2 linked regions of the Homo sapiens genome follow. The protein of the gene in region 2 interacts with the protein of the main gene of each other region in a pairwise test. Each region holds a gene or a part of one and is shown on either strand. Other genes may lie near its edges.

Evidence for each region.
Region 1: the proteins of TEP1 (region 2) and UBAP2 interact in binary tests that used the Homo sapiens proteins (3 or more experiments, as listed by UniProt).

Annotation. Positions count from the first base shown.
Region 1 is NC_000009.12:33,940,883-33,947,907, forward strand, and holds part of UBAP2 (ubiquitin-associated protein 2), read right to left. Parts: intron 3,758-7,025; coding exon 3,483-3,757; intron 2,708-3,482; coding exon 2,538-2,707; intron 981-2,537; coding exon 767-980; intron 1-766. UniProt on the Homo sapiens protein: Recruits the ubiquitination machinery to RNA polymerase II for polyubiquitination, removal and degradation, when the transcription-coupled nucleotide excision repair (TC-NER) machinery fails to resolve DNA damage. May promote the degradation of ANXA2.
Region 2 is NC_000014.9:20,375,484-20,382,508, forward strand, and holds part of TEP1 (telomerase protein component 1), read right to left. Parts: intron 6,874-7,025; coding exon 6,741-6,873; intron 6,581-6,740; coding exon 6,430-6,580; intron 6,204-6,429; coding exon 6,070-6,203; intron 5,919-6,069; coding exon 5,830-5,918; intron 5,563-5,829; coding exon 5,448-5,562; intron 4,993-5,447; coding exon 4,752-4,992; intron 4,571-4,751; coding exon 4,447-4,570; intron 3,623-4,446; coding exon 3,498-3,622; intron 3,371-3,497; coding exon 3,271-3,370; intron 3,053-3,270; coding exon 2,897-3,052; intron 2,754-2,896; coding exon 2,541-2,753; intron 2,271-2,540; coding exon 2,117-2,270; intron 2,010-2,116; coding exon 1,797-2,009; intron 782-1,796; coding exon 621-781; intron 386-620; coding exon 272-385; intron 1-271. UniProt on the Homo sapiens protein: Component of the telomerase ribonucleoprotein complex that is essential for the replication of chromosome termini. Also a component of the ribonucleoprotein vaults particle, a multi-subunit structure involved in nucleo-cytoplasmic transport.

The DNA.
Region 1 (7,025 bases), on a different chromosome or scaffold from region 2:
TGTAACTTTTATATGCACTAGGAAACCAAAAAATTAGCGCAACTTTCTTTATTGCAGTGGTATAAAACAACCTGCAGTATCTCCAAGGTATGCCTGTAGTGTCATCCATATTATTTTAATTTCCTGGGACAGAATGATGTTCAAGTATTACTAGTGTGACATGAAATGTGTATACTTGTTCTTTTTTAAGTTTCTTTCTAAGATTCTCAGGAGATATTGGTACATCTCAACTTAACAGAAAGCAATACAACTGGCAATGACCATCAGATATGCAGTTAGCAAGAATCTAGAAGGGTAAAACTTTAAAACTATATCAAAAATAGATCTGGTTCCTTTATCTATAGTCCAGTATTATTAACAAAAACTAGGTAGAAAATACATAATTTTAACACAAAAATACCTAACAGTGATGAAGAAGCAAATACATTCAAAGCAAATGGGGCAATCAGAGAGAAAGCAGTACATGAAATATTCAGAGATATTTCAGACAATGTAGAAGTACCCAGTACTACAGCCAAAGTGCTCATACTACACGCATGCTTGGTTTTCTCCACAAAGTGTATGAACCTGCAGATCTATCCACACACTCAAGAGCATGGGTGCTAGAGATGCCCACTATAAACAAACTCAATGAACTATAAGGATTCTACTCAAAAGGTTAGTCAATTTGTAAAATAAAATCATATCCAAGAAGCATAATTTAACCAAACATTAATTTCCAAATAAGACGGACATCTTCTGAGAAAAAAACTAAAATACCACTTACCATGATGGTTCCTGGAGCTGACTCTGATGAACTCACAGGGCTTTGGTATGGGATCCTGTTATGCACAGAACTCTGGTCATAAGAGGAAGACATTGCTACTGGACTAGCAGAATTCAGTGATGAGCTTGTCAGACTGCAGGAGGTAATGACGGAAGTTGTATATGTGGAGTTCTGTACTGCACTGGTCATTGATAAAGATGTATTCAAAGGCTCACTGAAAAGAGTCAAAAATATTCAACATAATTTTGTTACTTTAAATAGCTTCATAAAAAAAAAAAAACATAAACAGCTTCACGAGATGCAACTACTGCATCAATTTATTATCCCAAATGAGACCCACCTAATTTAACTGAGAGATAGGGGGACATCTTTAAGAATACTTAGGCTGCGTGCGGTGGCTCACGCCTGTAATCCCAGCACTTTGAGAGGCAGAGGTGGGCGGATCCGGAGGTCAGGAGATCGAGACCATCCTTGCCAACATGGTGAAACCCCGTCTCTACTAAAAATACAAAAATTAGCAGGGCGTGGCAGTGGGCACCTGTAATCCCAGCCACTCTGGAGGCTGAGAAAGGAGAATCACTTGAACTCGGGAGGCAGAGGTTGCAGTGAACCAAGATCGCGCCACTGCACTCCAGCCTGGCGACAGAGCAAGACTCTGTCTAGAAAAAAAGAAAAAAAATAAGAAGATTCTTTAAGGAATCCAGGTGTTTGAGACCATCTTTAAAAAGGAAACTTAAACAAATATCAGGTTTTGCCTCTGGAATGTGAAAAAACTAAAACAACAACAACAACAAAGTCAGCCAGGCCGGTGGCTCATGCCTGTAATCCCAGCACTTTGGGAGGCTGATGCAGGCAGATTCATTGAGCTCCAGAGTTTGAGGCCAGTCTGGGCAACATGACGAAACCCTGTCTCTACAAAACATATTTAAAAATTAGCTGGGCATGGTGGTGCACGCCTGTAATCCCAGATACTCAGGAGTCTGAGGCAGGAGGATCATTTGAGCCTGGGAGGCAGAGGTTGCAGCGAGCCAAGCATGCTGCTGCACTCCAGCCTGGACAACAGAGCAAGACCCTATCTCAAAAAAAAAAAAAAGAAAAGAAAAGAAAACTAAAATCTGAGATTTTGTATTTATAAAATATTCCACTGAAGGAAAATGACTGCTGCAAACATGTGGAGAAATTAGATCCCTCATAGACTACTGGTAGGAATGTCAAATGCTACAGCCACAGTGGAAACAGTATGGGAGTTTCCTGAATGGTTAAGTTACCATATGACTCAGCAACTCTACTCCTGGGATATACATCCCAAAGAACTGAAAGCATGCAAAACTTGAAACCAAATGTCCATAGCAGCATCATTCACTATAGTCAAAAAGAGCAAACAACCCAAATGTCCACCAACTAATGAATGAATAAAATGTGGTATTATCAACACAATGAAATATTTGGCAATAAAAATGATACATTAAACATGGGTGTACCTCGAAAACTTACACTAAGTGAAAGATCAGACATAAAAGGCCACATATTCCAAGATTCCAGTTATATGAAATGTCCAGGTAGGCAAATCCAGAGACAGATTATTGGTTGCTAAGGGGCAGGGCAATGAAGAAACTGAGACTGTCTGCTACAGGTATGGGGTTTCTTATGGAGATGATGGAAGGTCTGGATAAACACTGAGGATAGCTATTACCACAGGATGTATTCTTTTCCACCAGTTGATCTCTCTTAGGGTCTATTTTGCTTCATAACAAAGGACTAAATTCAGTACCTTAAAGACTTCGAATACAAGCTGATGGGAATCTGATTACTATTTTCACTGCTTGGAGCTGATCCAAATTCAGAGAGAGAAGGTTCTGACCCAAATTCCAGAGCCCCAAACTGCACATTTAATCCTGTGACATCTGCTGAACCAGGCATTTCCACTGCAGAAGCTGGGATCTGAAAAAGCAAAGCTGTCGTGTCAGGAACAGAGGTCACAGATTCCAGGTCACAAAGGCCTATAACAGAGCCAAACAAGCATTTAGGTTCCCAGGCAATACTGGCAAGAAGAAGGAGTGAGAAACAAGGAGAAAATAGGCTAAGACTTTTCTAAAAAGAGAAAGAAAAAAAACAAGCTAAGAAAAATTAAAAGTTGGCTGGGCATGGTGGCTCATGCCTGTAATCCCAGGACTTTGGGAGGCCAAGACAGGAGGATCATTTGCACCCAGGAGTTCAAGACCAGCCTGGACAACACGGCGAGACCCTGTCTCATTTAAAAAAAAAAAGGAGAAATTAAAAGTTAAACAGGAATGGTTGGCATTAATATCACCACCTGCATCTAAGAGCAATGCGGGGGAGTTGTGATGGTGGGTGGGAAGTGAACACTGAGCTGACTACTCTATTTTTGGGGACTCACCAATGATGAAAGTATCACCTGGTCAAGGAACCATGCATCCTCCAACTATGGGATACAGCAAAACCCTCAAGAACAACAGTTCTCTGAGCCAGATCTTCAAATCTGTACTTGAAATAAGGATCTGTGGCTCTCAGCACAAACCCATTCCCTCTAATACTAGTCTGGTCACTCAGAAATGGCCATATCCTTATTATGCAATCAATAAGCTATGTGCTTGAAAAACACTGTACCCCAGTTTCCAAAACTTAGTATCCCACTAGAGCTGAATGTAAAAATAATTCCAGCTTTAGGACGGTGACTTCATGATGAAATGCCCACCTTAGAAGCTGGGGGTATCCGCCGCTTAGCAAGTTTGATGTGTTTGGGCTGTGGCTGGTGGACAGACACAGAGATATTTTCAATGGTCGTGCTGGGAAGCTGCAAAAGCTTGTTCACAGTGGAGGGACTGTCTCCAGGTGTTGATTCTCGAAGTTTTGCCTGGGAAGGAAAGGACTCCAAACCAGGAGGAGGAACAGTGACTGCCTGGCTCTGGTGCTGTTGTCGCTGGCTCAACTGGCTAAGAACTGGGGATGGCTCAGGTTGAGATTTGAAGTCTAAAAAAAGTAAGCAGCAATTAATGAGGCATAATGGCTTCACAATGTTCTTCAATAGAACATGAAGTGTTCTATTACCACCAATTTCTCCAAATCATTTCCAGTTGAATTTCTTAGGTTTTACACACACTATGTGTAACACTTCATTTATGATAAACGGGAAAAGTTCCTAAATGGGTACACACCTTGTTTCCTATCCAGAGAGATTTGGTTTATGTTTAAGCATAGGGAGTGATGAACTCGTGAGAACAATATTATGGTGCTATACACACCTGACCATTAGCTAACAGAGAATCATACTTTTATTATTTTATGGATTTTCTACATAACTGTTAAAAATTTGAGCCAGGCACAGTCACTCATGCCTATAATGCCAGCACTTTGGGAGGCTGAGGTGGGAGGATTGCTTTAGCCCAGGAGTACAAGGCTGCAGTGAGCTATGATTGCACCACTGCATTCCAGCCTGGATGACAAAACAAGACCATGTCTTCATCCAAAAATTAAAAAAAAAAAAACTTATTAAGTTTTTGGACTAATTGATATATATATATATATGATGTTACAAAATCCAAAAGATGGCTGGGCGCAGTGGCTCACGCCTGTAATCCCAACACTTTGGGAGGCCGAGGCAGGCAGATCACGAAGTCAGGAGATCAAGACCATCCTGGCTAACATGGTGAAACCCCATCTCTACTAAAAATACAAAAAAATTAGCCGGGTGTGGTGGTGGGCACCTGTAGTCCCAGCTACTCGGGAGGCTGAGGCAGGCCCTATGACGTGAACCCGGGAGGCGGAGCTTGCAGTGAGCTGAGATGGCGCCACTGCACTCCAGCCTGGGTGACAGACTGGGTGACAAACAAACAAACAAAAAACAAAATCCAATAGATACAAGAATATGTATGACGAATATTATGTTTCTCTTCCACACCACTCTCCCATACTTGCTCCACAAAGGCAAACACTGTACCCGGTTTTCCTGAATGTCTCTTTCAGAGATACTATATCACAATATATATAGACAGACAGACAGACAGACATATATATACACACACTATATACCTTACTGTCTCACAAATCATTTAATTTCCATTGAGTGTCTCACATTAATGTTCAAAGAGCTACTTCATACTCATTTTGGTGACTACACAGAAATCTAGTACACATAGGTATCATTTTATAAAACCAGTACTATATTAATGGACTTTTAGGTCAAATCTTATGCTATTAAAAGCAATGCACTAATGAATACATTTGTATGTAAGATATTTTGTGCAAGTACAAGTATACCTGTAGGATCAACTGGTAGGATAAAGTTGCCCCTTCACAGGGTAAATATATTTTGAATTTTGATAAATATTATAAAATTACTGTCCACAGATAGAACACATCCTTTTTAACACACTCTAATATCAAACACTTTTGAATCTCCTGGTTTAATTGGTGGAAAATGGTATTAAAAAATACAAACTAAAATGATACAAATGTGCTAAGTATCATTTCATATACTTAAGTGTTCTTTACTTATAGACTGTTCTTATCTCTTTAGCCAGTTTTTTAACCTGTTTGTTGATCTGCTTTATTTTTACTCTTTTTATATTAAGGAAATTAACTCTTTTTGTCTATGATACAAATTTTGAGTATTTTTTTCATTGTTTGTCTGCCTAATTTGGTGTTTTCTGCCATACCCAGAAAGGTCTCCCTCACACAGAACAACAAAAAAATTCTCCTGTGTTTTCTCTATTATAGTTCTAGATTCACTATTTATGTTTAACTATCTGACCCACTGGCATTTTGGCATAGAGATCCAACTTCATTTTTCAAACGGTTTTAATAAAGCGTTTTTTCACTACTGATTTGAAAAGCCAGTTCTACCATATGGGACAGAGGTTGGCCCTCTTTTTCTCTATGGGGCCAGATAGTACAACAACCTAATATTTTAGCCTTTGTGTCTCATCACGTTGCCCAGGCTGGTCTCGAACTCCTGCTCAAGCAATCCTCCTCCTTCTGCCTCCCCAAGTGCTGGGATTACATGAGCCACTGTGCCCAGCTAGCTGAGTGTCAACAGAATTTAATTTAAAAAAAAACAAATGGCAGAGCTGGTTTAGGCGCATTCATTTTTGAACTTGGTATTATAGGCATGCACCAAACACACAGGTTTTATAAAGAATATGGGAATAGCATGGTTCTATCTAAAAAGTCCTATCACTCACTAGTTATGTGTGCAGAAAAAGTTAATATAGGGACCTACAATTCCTCTCAAAAAGGCCTGCTTGATGACTGGACCTTGGCTAATGTCTGAGAATTTGGACTGCTGGTATGTACTTGGCAAAGGGTGCCAACACACTAACCTATTAAGAGTGGCTCACTGTGCTAAGAATGTCTGTATAAACAATGTGGTTTATGCTCAACATCTGCTTTCCTTCTAGGAATCTGTAATTTTGCTATGTGCTATAGCAAAAAATGTAGGCACAGGGTACCTACATTTCTTGCCCCAGCAAAAACTTTGGGCACTGAGTCTCTAATGATTTCCCTTGGTAGACATCGCTTCAAACCCCGGAGTGGTCTCATGTACTTCCAACACAGTAAGTCATTTCACAGAACAGAGGAATATGCTTCCCTGTCTCTCTATATGCCCTAACCATAAACCAGCCCACATGGCCAGCTCCACAATGAATGAAATCCCCTGCTATTCCTTAATACAGTGTGGCATGTGAGTGCTGGTGGGGAATGGTGGCTTAATGTCACAATTTCTGTGGGAGTTTAGTTTAGAAAACATCCAGTCTACACATGGGACCTTTACAATACAAACCACGGAATGTAAAGGTTGATGAAATCATAGTTGATACTTCAAAATGTTAGAATGAGAAAGCATGAGAGTGTGATAGTTAAAATACTGTCCAGGCCGGGCGTGGTGGCTCACACCTGTGATCTCAGCACTTTTGGAGGCCGAGGTGGGCAGATCACCTTAGTCCAGGAGTTCCAGACCAGCCTGGGCAACATGGCAAACCCCTGTCACATTAAAAAAATACAAAAAAATCAGCCAGGAGTGACGGCATGTGCCTATAGTCCCACCTACTAGAGAGGCTGAGGTGGGAGGATGGACTGAGCCTGGGAGGTCAAGATGGCAGTGACGCGTTACTGTGCCACTGTACTCCAGCCTGTGCAACAGAGCAAGATCCTGACTCAAAAAAAAAAAAAATAAAATAATAGAGTAAAATATTGTCTAGGCTGGATACAGTGGTGCACATCTATAATCCCAGTTACTCAG
Region 2 (7,025 bases):
TCAGCTTCATCATTGACCTTGGAAATGTTCTGAGTTCAATTTCCTTGTCTGAAAAATAGAGATAAAAGGAGTATCTACTTTACAGGGTGTTGTAAAGATTAAGTGAAGCAATATATGAAAAGAGCTTAGTTCAATGCCTGGCACATATCAAGTTTGACAAATATTAGCTATCACTATTATTAATGGGTGCCAGAAAAAGGACGAGGTGGGGAGTGTTGTCTTGCCCCAGGAACCCAGCTGGGCTCTGTGCCACCCCTGGCCCTTTACTCACCAGTAGGTTATCTTTGGTCCAGGCACAGCCAGTGACCCAGTCACGGTGACAGGCAGGGAAGGAGTGGATCAAAACAGGGGTTTTGGGTGTCCTCACGTCCCAGCAGAGGAGACTCTGGATAGGCCCCAAGGAGAGGGAGCAATCAGGACCAAAGGAAGGATGGGAACCCCGGAGCCATTTCAGGCAAGAAATTTCAAGGAAAGAGGGGCACAAGGAAGCACAGGCAGACAGATCTATACTAGATTTGGCAAAACAAAAAGCAGGAGGAAGCAATGGGAAATGGGTTGTTAAGAAATCTAGGAACTAGAGAGGCTATGGGACCCCAGGGTTGCATCCTTCTGCAGCTCACCCGATCCCGGCCCCCGGTGGCCAGGCTGCCTCCATCAGTGCTGAAACTACAGCAGCTCACAGGGCCCTCATGTCCCCGCAGCTCAGTGCCACAGGGAAAGTCTTCTGCCTTGTGTGGCCGCGTCAGCAGCTGCCTTGGCCACAGCTGCACTGTGAAATCCTCTGCATTGGAAAAAGAGAGAGGGAACAGCTTCCTGAAAGAGGAAGCCAGACAGGCCCTGGGAGGCCAAAGACAGGAGCGGCCATGGGGGCTGAGGGTGACACCTGAGGCTCAGCTCCATGGGAGGGATGCAGGGAGTCACAAGGCTGTGGAGAGGCCCTGGGCAAGGGTCATCAGCGAGTGTGTACATAGGACGGGAACGTGCGGCACTCCCAGCTCCAGCTCCACAGCTCAGGCCGGGAACACAGTTCCTTGTCTCTGCTTCTCTAACTGTACTCCCACAGCAGCTGCTCCAGACCCCTCCTCTTCTCAAGTGTCCAGTGTCACTTCCACCTCGTGACCTGTGAGGACCAGTTCTCCCTCCTAGAGAGGGCCTAGGCCATTCTACATTTTCACCTCAACATCTCTCTCTCTCCTTCTAAGGGAAACCTATCCCTTTTCACAGCAAAGTCTCCCACGGGGCAGAAACTCAAAGGATTACTGGGAGGTTAGAGGTCCCAGAATGAAGGTGAAGGAATGAGTGGAAACAGTCTAAACAGATTATGCAAGATAATTGCATTCAAAAGCACTTTGAAAGTTGTAAAACAAAATCGCACATGTGTATTTTCATACACATATACATACAACTTGGAGAAAGGTGTTAGTGTCTTTAAAAGGAACAGTGATTTGTGGGCCAGGCGCAATGGCTCACGTCTGTAATCCCAGCACTTTGGGAGGCCGAGGTGGGTGGATCACCTATGGTCAGGAGTTCGAGACCAGCATGACCAACATGGTGAAACCCCATCTCTACTAAAAATATAAAATTAGCCGGGCGTGGAGGCGCATGCCTGTAATCCCAGCTACTCGGGAGGCCGAGACAGGAGAATTGCTTGAACCCAGGAGGCAGAAGTTGCAGTGAGCCGAGACCGTACCACTGCACTCTAGCCTGGGCAACAAGAGTGAAGCTCTGTCTTAAAAAAAAAAAAAAGAAAAGAAAAGAACAGTAATTTGTTAACCCTGCCCACTGTCTAGTAGTACCTGAGGCAGAAGCCAAGAGCTCCTGGGAAGTGGCCAGTCCTAGCACAGGCTTCTGGAATCTGGACAGGAGCCAGAGGGACTGAAGGGAGCATTCCTTGAGTGCCCAGCCCTGCAAGGACCCATCTTCTGCACCACTCACCAATACCTTGGGGCTTAGCCAGGCCAGGGCGGACACTGCCACATCCAGTGCCTGACCCTGAGCCCCCTGGGAACCTAGAGAATGAGAGAGAACAAGGGAGTAAGACACTTGGGAAGGGGTAGGGGGCAGGGGCTGCGCTCTTTCTAAAGGCTCAAAAACCCACCCATTCCCATTTCAGTACCTGAAGAGATTTTGTAGATCCTAATGCCATCCGCTCGATATCCAACAGCCACCCGATCACCATCTGGGCTGAGTGCCACAGAGAGGGCAGGAGAGAGAGAAAGGGAACCCAGGTGCCCACGGGGCCGACCCAGAGACCCTGACCACACCTGAACCTGGGAACCAAGAAAAGGGCTTAAGGATACCACCTCCACCACGCGGTCCTCCTTCCTGTTTTGAGTTACAGCCACCCCCATTAAAGTCCTCCTTCCAGAGACTCTTCTCATGAGAGCTGCCCCTGCACACAGCGGCACCCCTCTCCCCGTGGTTCCTGCAATCCAAGCTCCTCCACAGTCTCCTCGACAAAGGACCCCCACCCCCACCAAGATATTCTTTGCCTTTGCTACTCCTCCTCACAACCCACCACCAGCCCTCTGCAAGCTGACCTTGCCATCCTCTCCAGCCGTCAGTAACTGGCAACCCGCATGCAGGAAAAGCGCAGCAGCAACAAAGCCATGGTGGGCAGGGAAGGCAGCCAGCCGTGCCCCTTCTCGCCAGGCCCACAGCTCCACCATACTGTCCAGCCGGCCCACAGCCACAACCCCCCCAGGCACATTGAAGGCCAAGGTACGGATAGAGGCTCCGGGTGCCCCCAGGTCCTACACAGGGAGGTAGAAATGGAAACGTGAAGACCTGCTCTCAGCAAAATCTTAAGTGACCCAGAATGCTGCTGTCTGTCGTCTGCCACCCTCCACTCCTGTCCTCCTGTGCTTCCCCCAAGAGCAACACTGGACCTTCTTACCTTGGTGACTTTGAGCCCATCCACCTGGAAGAAGCTGATGCTGCCAGCCCAGCTGCCTGTGGCTATTACCTGCCCCTCTGGGTGGAAGGCAACACAGTTCAGGGACTTGGGGTAGGTGTGCTGGAAGGCCAGCTGCCCACGGACTGTGTCCCACAGCTGAGGGAGAGAGAGGAGGAATCAGGATGCTGAAGAGAGATGCCTGAACTTCTCAGTCCCAGACCTCCAGGAGCAACCTTGTCCAGTTACCCTGCCCTCAGCAGGGAAGGCCTTCTCTGGCCAGGGAGTCAGCAGCCTCTGCCGCACTGAGAGAACAAATTCACGAGGGTGAGTCATGGCTCAGGGCCACTCTGACCACTGCAGACCCCAAGTCTTACCTTTAGGCATCCTCCCAAGCACACGGTGGCTAGCAGCCGGCAGTCTGGGCTCAGGCAGCAGCCAGTGATTTGGTACTGGTGAGCCTTAGTCTGCAGCACCCTATCCCAGGAAGATGAAGTCAGTCCTCTGGACCCTGGCCATCAGCTCCCTCCTCATTTCCTTCTCCTGGGGCTTCCAAAAAATGGGGAAGGCCCTCATTCCAAGACAAATGGGGAGGACCCCTTACCGACAACCATGCTGCAGGTCCCAGAGCTCCAGGAGCCCGTCGAAGGCAGTAAGAAAGAGTGTATCATCGGAGAGGAACAAACAAGCAGAGATTCCATCACAGCCACTCACCACAGACTTCTCCTCCTGCGACAGTGGGTGAGGGAGCGCAGCTCAGGCCATCCCCTTGACCCTCCAAGTCCCACCACTCCAGGCCCCACCCAAAAAGAAGGCCAAGGCACAAAGGCCATGAGTCCTTGGCTCTCTATGTTCCAAGTCAAGCACACGTTCAAGTGGGGGCCTCGTGATCCAAGTGGGGCCACATTTTCTCCCCTACTCCAAACCCCATACCTATTCCCCAAGTTACAGAAAATTTTGATGGGTCTGAGAAAATGGGGTTACATGGGGTAGGGGATGACATGAGTGTAAAGAGGATAGAAAGAGGCTGTGGTTCTAGGACTCACCTCTCCAGCCTAATGTACTATTAGCCTCCCATAAGCACGCTGTGCTGCCATAATTCCCAGCAATTTACAAATTTACCAGGAACATTCCCCTCCTGTGTCTTTGCTCAGGTTCCTTGTTCAAACAAGAGTGCCTGCCCTTCTCTATCCTATGTCCTCCTATAGCTGCACAACTCACTCATGTCTTAATTAGATTACATGGCTATGTTTTGGTTCCTTTTTTACCTCGTATGTCTTATCTCCCAACAAAACTGACCACTTGGTGGGCAATGACAATGTCCCAAATCCTGTGTTTCTTGCAACGCTTAGCACAGTGCCTTAAATGGAAGGTGTGCAGCAAATATTTGCTGTGTGATTGATTTTTTGGCCAAGCCCTTTGAGCTGATGTGCAGGCAGTAAAGTTGCTGAATTAATCAGAGTGATAACAGGTGTGTTTGGCTCATCTAGGGCTTCAGGGCAGTCTGCATGGATTTTCAGAGGGTAAATTCTGCCCCTCCTTGATTGTCATACCTGCCAAGTTCTCAGGTCCAACAGGTAAACTGTCCCATTGGCAGTGCCCACAGCTGCTCTTTGCCCATTGGTGGAGAAGGCCACAGCAGTAGGGGATGAGGAAACTGCCAGAGACAGGCTGGAGCTAGAGAAAGAGTAGGAAGAAAGGGAGGAAATAAACGAGAGAATGCAAACAGGAGTTGATTTATGTGCTTCTGTGCCTGGATCCCTCTCCAGTGTTTCTGGTCATCCTTATTCCTCAGTTTCAGAAAGAGCTGCAGCTTGCTCTCTGGTGGGCTTACTAGGGTCTGGGGTCAAGGTCTTACCTTTGCTGATTTTTCATGGTCCGGGGTTTATTAAGCCATCGTAGTGTGTGTTGGAGGTGCCATCTCCGGGAGAGCAGCGAGGCTTGGTGGCAAAGAGGTGAGTCCAGGGGCTGGTTGGCTGCCTGCTGGGGCAGGAGCCGGGGGTACTGGCTGAGGATTGAAGCCTGCTGCCTCAGGAAGGTGCGAAACACTGCAACGTCAGCCTCGGGGAGCTTTTGTTCCTCTTTGGGGACTGAAGAAGCTATAAAAGGGTGGCAGAATGTCACTGGGGAGCCAGCTGGACCCCATTAGCCCCAGCACCAAATAAAACCATATGGTGTGTCTACAATAGTAAGTCTCAAAGTGTGGCCCTCTGGCCCTATATCAGGAATATCTCTTAAAAGTACAAAGCTTTGAGCCCCACTCCAAACCTAGGAAACCAGAATATGGAGACCCAAGGATCTGCAATTTGAACAAGTTTCCTAGATAGTTTTATGCTAACTAAATAAAGTTGAAGAATCTCTGGTCCAAGAGATCAAGGTGAAAGGTCTCCTGAGAGTCACGTGCTCACCCTCTTGGCATTTTCAACTCGAAATGGAAATTTGAATCTTTTTTCCCTGACACCCACACCCCTGCCCCAACCCTGAGCAGGGCCCCCATAAGCACACCCAGGAGTCCCATATCTCAGAGAAGAACCCAGCCAGTGACTCATCTCACCATAGAGGGCATGGGCCTCCAAGAGCCGAGAGACCAGACCCAATTCCAAGTGTGCAGCCACCACATGGAGGTTGGTAAGGAACTTCGAAAGAAGTCCACGGTTCCCGCTCTGGAGCTGAGAAGGTCAGATTGAATTCATTAGGGATATGAAGGGGCTGGTGAGAAGGGACAGTTTAGTCTCAGAACCTGGATACAGAGATAGGATCTGAGCTGGGACAAAGGACTTGAAGAAGAAGGGCAGGAAAACTGAAAGGAAAGAGGTCAAGGGAGTTTGGGAGGGGTAATGGCGGCGGTGATGGTGGAGATGGTAACGGGGAGAGGGGTCTCAGAGCAACCAAAGCACTCACTTTGGGAAAGGTGTCTATGGGGTCTAGGAACTAACCAGGTGGTAAGGCAGGTCTCCCAGAGCCTCAGGAGGGCAACTTCGGAAGGTGCCTGAGGCATCAGCGTCACATGTCTTCCAGAGCTGAGCTGCATGAACAGATATTGAGAAAGGCTCAGCCCTGCATCATTCCCAAGGGCAGTAGGTGAGCTGGCCAGCAGATGGGAGCACAGTGGGTGGTCCTGGCCTCCAGGCCCAAGCCCCACACTCAGTGCCCAGGCTGACTTGGGCTGCAATCACCTGCAATGAGGATGTGTGCCGTGTCCTCTAGCCCTGGCCTCTTCCCATAGCAACGTTTAGCTGCTGTTCTCAGGGGCCCATCAGGGAGGCACAGCCGGGCACCAGGGCGCTCCAGAGGGCCCTCCCCTAGCAAACTGTCCTCGTGTGAGGAAGGGAGAGAGAAGAAGGAAGAGGCCTGTCAGTGAGCTTCCTGGCACACAGTGGGCTCCTATTCCCCCCTCAAATAGCGGAAACTGGAGCAGCTGGAGCAGTAGCTCATTCATGGTCTGGGAGCCAGTTGTTGAAGCTATACAGAGGGCCCCGGCTCAAAGAAGGGAAGGCACAGAGAGGTCAGCGGGAGCTCTGCTGGGGCACCTGTACCTGCGCAGACTCTGGACGAGGCAGGCAAACGGGCCCATGGGGTAGGGGTCTCCACTGTTACCAGCAGCCACTGCTTCTTCCCAGCTCTTAGTCCCCTTCGGTAGTGTCCGCCACACACTCAGCACTCCGTGCAGCTGGTCCACAGTCAAACCTGAAAACTCAAGCTCTCTGAGGCCCTCATCTAACCATACGGTGTCCCCGCCCCCACCACACCCAGTCTCTCCTTGAACTGCCTGCTGAGACCCCAAGGGAACCAATGTAATCCGAACCCTGGCCCTCAGCCTCCCAACCAACCCACCCCAAGCACTGACCACTCCGTGTGACTTCTAGGGCAGTCAAGGCCTGGGGAAGGACATCAGGCCCGTGCTCCTTCTCCAGTGTGCTCAGGATGTGCTGCAGCAGCAGGGGGACAGTGGCAGGCAGGGTCCGGAGTCTCTCAGACACCTAGGATGGCGGGAGGACAGCCTTGTTCAGTGCAGTGGGAGGAGAAGCAGCTTGGCTTGTGGGATAGGGAAGGGGCAGCAGGAGGACAGTGTGGAGGAATGAAAAAGTAAAGAACAACAGTAGGAGGGAAGTGAGGCGAGGTATGAGGCGAG